2 separate regions of the Homo sapiens genome follow, and region 2 is linked to region 1. The links come from fine-mapping of genetic effects on gene expression. Tissue or cell type: whole blood. Region 1 holds a variant in brackets; the other region holds the start of a gene. All regions are shown on one strand. Distances are from middle to middle.

Region 1 (2,762 bases):
ACAACTAGCTCTTCAACCTGCCCTGTTGGCTTCCTTCCTTTCCCTATTCTCGCCTTCCCCCTCCTGCCCCATCGATGCTCCCCGAGACTGCCTCCCAAATCATCTATTAGCACTCAAACCCTAACTCAAGGTCAGCTTCTGAGGGAGCCCAGCCTAAGACAGTTGTTATTACTACACTTAATATAATAGATATGTCCCTATGTGTAATTGCCATAGGTATCATTATATGTAAAATATATATGTTGTTATTGGTTAGGAAAAAGACCCCAAAAACAGAGGGAAGGACAAACAAGGAGGGAGCAGTGGTGACACAGAGCCCCTTCGATGAGGCAAGACACCAGGGAAAGGCAGCCACCACCTCAGCCAGGTCTGTGGCTCTCACATTCTAGAACAGCATCTCTTAACACGTGTGTCATAGATGTTCAGTGGGGCCCGAGGTGAACTGCGAGACACCACTCTCCTCTAAGCCTCCTGCCCTGGAGGGGCAGGACCAGTGTGTCTTCTTTTCTTTCAACTGTATTTTTTCAATTGTAGTTGAAAAAAAAAACCCAAAACATAAAATTTACCATCTTAACTATTCTTAAGGGTACGCCTCAGTAGTATTAAATACATTTGCAGTGTTGTGCTACCATCACCACCATCCATCTCCAGAACTCTTTTTATCTTTTGGTTTGTTTTGAGATGGTGTCTCACTCTGTGGCCCAGGCTAGAGTACAGTGGCGTGATCTCTGCTCATTGCAACCTCCACCTCCTGGATTCAAGCGATTCCCCTGCCTCAGTCTCCTGAATAGCTGCAATTACAGGTTTGTACCATCATGCCTGGCTAATTTTTGTATTTTTAGTAGAGACAGGGTTTCATCATGTTGGCCAGGCTGGTCTCAAACCTCTGACCTCAAGTGATCTACCTGCCTTGGCCTCCCAAAGTGCTGGGATCACAGGTGTGAGCCACCATACCCAGCCCTTTTTATCTTGTAAAACTGAACTCTATACCTATTAAACAATAACTCCCCATTTTTCTCTCCCACCAGCCCTGGGCAACCACTGTTTGACTTTGTCTGTATGAATTTTACTACCTTCAGATCCCAATGTAAGTGGAATCATACAGTATTTGTCCTTTGCAACTGGGGT[G/A]GGACAATTCTCTAGCATATTCCGCCATCCCTGCAGAACTCAACCTCCAGCTGCCCACGGTGGGAGCAAGCTCAGTAACACCCCTTTACTGGCTGCCTGCCCTCCCGTCTCATTTCCTCAAATCCCTACAGGATTTGCTTCTGGGGGAACTCAAACTTAGGCAATTGAGCACCTGCCAAGGTGCCACAATTGAACACATACTAGAGGCTTTATATATGTTGCACAGCATCTATCAAGAAACAAAAATAAAAGACATTGCTCATGCATGAAGAGAAAGGTCAGCCCTTTGTTTCAAGACAAATGTCCACAATCACAAAGGGAAGAATGTTCCAACTCTGAGGCCAAGCCAGGTGAACAGAATGTGACTGAGCAGATCCTTTTCAGGTTACACATTCTCTGACAGAAGGAACAAAAAGACCAACTTTCCAATGGAGGGAGAACCAGGTTTCCAAAGGATAGCAAATGCATTGTTTATTGTCTGGGGTTGGTCCCATTGTTGAGCACACATTCCTTGGAGAAAACGTTTTGCCAAGATGATTGAGGTTTAGTCTGCCCAGCTTTTGAAAATCTGCCCTTTCCTTGCTCCAGGGTTGGCCTGAATTCACCATCACAGGTAAGGAAGCAAAAAGCAGAGGCCTCTTCACCCGTTCCAGGAAAGGCACAGTGAACTCCAGTTAAGTTTGCGAGCTGGATCATTAGCGTCTCATTAATGACTTCAATCTCTCACAAACACAGGGAAGACACAGAAAACCACTGTCTGAGCCACGAGCTGTAATTGCTGCTGTCCTTCTAAGCAGGGGAAAAGCAGACCACGCTTTGTGGCTTCTTAAAAGCCCTGTTCGTTAATGAGGTTTCCTAATTTAGGGCAGAAGAAAACTTCTGGGTTATTATTAGGCTACAAATGGAGGCATGTGTTTCATTTAATCGCCCTACTTAACAAAAGAAACTTTGCTTTTGTAAATTAAAGAATTATTTTTAAGTGTTAGAGGCCTCTGGATAACCTTGAATAAAGCCTCAAACATGATCAGGCCTTGGTGGCCAATCTAGAAATCTAACAGACCAGGGCAAATGATCCCAAAGGTTTTGTCCAGCTTTAACAATCTGTGGTTTGCAAGGACAAGTGGTTTCAAAGGCTTTGCCCAGCTCTAATAACCTATGGTTTTGTTGATACCACCTCCTCCCTGCCTCCGACAGAGGTCCCTTGCAGATACTGAGCCTTCAAAATCCACGTCTTAATTGTATCTATTCTATTAATAACTCTTGGGGTCTTTAGATGCTGTTGGCAACCACAGCACCTCTTATCTGCTTGGGATCCCGTGCAAGTTGCGCACAGAGGATCCCATCTGTGGGCTCAGAAGCACAAAGGGAACAGCAAAATCTTCTATCTGCCATCTATGGGGAAAAAAAAAGGTAATTACCTCTGTCAGTTGCATATGTTGAGTCACCCTGAGACAATGGAGGTCTTCTTCAGGCTGAATTTAACATCACAAATCATCACCTTAAATGCATGGGTACTGGAGAGGCGTAGCCAGGTATTATGAAGGCTTTAAAACCCATACTCATAAAATATAACAGAAAAATTCGTCTTTCAGGTTTACAACCAACAAAATCTGTGATATCTCTTTTGTGAATGC
Region 2 (2,500 bases), 50 kb before region 1:
CTACTACCCCCCACACTAGAAACTGCTTCTTTCAGTAGCAAAAAAAAAAAAAAGAAGAAGAAGAAGAAGAAGAAAAAGTAGGCGGGGCGTGAGGGAGCTGCAGATGGTAGAAGGGAGAGGGAGTAGCGAGATTAAAGTTAGACAGGCCTGGGTTCAAGTCCTACCTCCACCACTGAGTTTACCTTAGATGAGCCATTTTGCCTCTCTGAAAATGTTTTCCTCATCTGTGAAATGATTATAAAAATAAATTATGGGAAACGCTGTCAGAATTCAGAGCGCTATTGTTAGTGTTCAGCATTAGCAGAAAGCCAACAAATGGGAACCACATATTTATTTTATATATATAGTTAAAGAGAGGAAAGAAAATTCCTAAAACATGTACCAGGAAAATCCAGACGAGCACACCCCGGCCCCCCACCCACTCTCCCGGGCAGGGCAGGAGGCACACGGCTGGCTGGGGCGCACCAGGGCACCTGTGCGTGCAGGTGGGGCGGGCGCGCGGCGACAGCAGGTTGGCGATGCCGCCCTGTCGGCCGGCGGGGGAAGGAAGAGGGCGGGAGGGCCCACCTGAAGACGCGCAGCAGCAGGCAGGCGATGAGGAGGGTGGTAAAGGCGAACGCCACGATCACGGCTGCCTTGAGGGTGGGTAGGTCGCGGAGGAGGATGGAAATGCGGGTCACCAAGGCGTCGCCACTGCTGTTGGAGCTGGAGCTGCCGCTGCCGCCCGCCGCCCCAGACCCAAACCGGGTGGTGTTCCCGGGCCCCGGGCCGGGCGGTGGCCGCGACTCGCGCTCGGGTTCGGGCCACGGCGCGGAGACGGACTCGGCTCTGCTGGCGCGGGCGGCGGGAGCGGCCAGGAGCGCGAGCAGCAGCAGCGGCAGGAGCGGGGCGGGCAGCGGCACGGCGCGCATAGTGCGGTGGGTCGGCACAGGATCGGGCAGGGCGCGCGCGGCTGAGCTCCAGGATCCGCACCAGCACGGAGGCCTGCACCGGGGGATCCTGCGGCGGAGGCGGCTGCGCGGTGCTTGGCAGGAAGCTGCGGCGCCCGGAAGAGCCCGCGCCACCGCCGCCGCCACCACCAACACGTTGCAAGGAGTCATTCGACGGGCCGCGGCCCCACGTGGGCGGGGCAGGCCACCCGGCCTGGGTCCCGGCTGCGCTCCGCTCGCCCGCGACCCCAATTCCTCGGGACTTGAGACCCCGTGGTGAAGCAGCAACTGCCACGATGACACTTGGGCTGGCCCTGTGTTACACGTTTCACGTGTTTTATTTATTTCATTTAATTCTACAACCCCCTTTGAAGACAGGTATTCTGTTACCCACATTTGATAGCTGACTTGGCACCCAAAGAGCCAGCTCACAGCAACCCACATTGTGTCAGACTAAGAATCAAAAACTATGGGACCTAGAAGTAGACTCCCATCTTGCAGATCAAAAACTGAAGCCGACAGTGAAGTGGTTGCCTGATGTCCTATGCAACGCATAATTTCAGTATCTCCCCTAATTTCCCTCTTTCTCAAAAGGGGTTTCTTATTTCATGCGCCTCTGCTTACGAACCGGACTGGGATGTGAATCTCTGCCTCTCATACCTTTGTTGTGGAACACCAGTTGGTGTGGTTAATGCCCCCCTGCCTGGCTGAAGTTTCTCCGGGGAATAATTGGCTTGCTGCCTCTGGTTTGTAAGCTAAATGATGCTTAGGTGGAGAAAGACAATTAAGGAAGTTCTAGTGGGAGGCCCAAAGGTGGAAACTGATGGGGACACAGAGCCCCTACCTGAAGTACTAGGAGCCATTCCCAGGGCTTCAGGGTTCCCCTTTTACACTGCAGATGGGTCCTGGCAGGAAGCTTTTCGGTGGTGGGTAAACAGTTAAATACACATGACATGACAAGGTCCCAGGGACCTTAAACAGCCCATTTCTGGTCCTGCTGGAAAAAGAGACAAATATAGTACAGTGTATTAGTTGTCTACTGCAGCATAACAAATTGCCCTAAAACCTAGCTGCTTAAAACAACATGCATTTAGTATCTCACAGTCTGTGGGTCAGGAAACTGACCATAGGTTACCTGGGTTCTCTGCTTCAGAGCCTCTCCCAAAGGTGCAATCAAGGTGTCAGCTGGGGCTGGGGTCTCCTCTGAAGGCTCAACTGGGGAAGGATCTGCTTCCAAGCTCAATCAGCATTTTTTGGCCAGATTCAGCCCTGCACTGGCTGTTGGACTGGAGCCTCAGTTTCCTTGGGGCAGTTGGCCAGAGGTTGCCCTCAGTTCCTTGGCATGGGGCCCTTCCAACATAGCAACTTGCTTCATCAAAGTATGCAAGTCAAGATAGCAATAGAAAGAGTCACCTACCAAGACAGAAGTCACTGTCTTATGAAACCTCATCACAGAAGTGACATTCTCACACCTTTGTCATATTCTATCAGTTAGAAGCAAGTCACAGGTTTTATCCACACTCAAGGAGAAGGAATTACACAACAGTATGAATATCAGGAAGCAGGGATCA

Evidence for each region. PIP is the estimated chance that this variant, and not a neighbour inherited with it, causes the effect.
Region 2: FAM174B starts here. The variant in region 1 is fine-mapped to the expression of FAM174B in whole blood (TOPMed, PIP above 0.99).

The regions. Positions count from the first base shown.
Region 1 is chr15:92,704,473-92,707,234 of GRCh38, forward strand. No RefSeq gene overlaps it. Among named protein-coding and RNA genes, the nearest start is that of FAM174B, 50 kb to the left of the region's middle. The variant G/A (reference allele first, on the strand shown) is at 1,129.
Region 2 is chr15:92,654,749-92,657,248 of GRCh38, forward strand. FAM174B (family with sequence similarity 174 member B) reads right to left here and starts at 1,027. Exons shown (of 3, transcript NM_207446.3): 1 at 568-1,027. The coding sequence starts at 911. RefSeq lists silencers at 404-473, 524-573, 674-873, 1,154-1,203.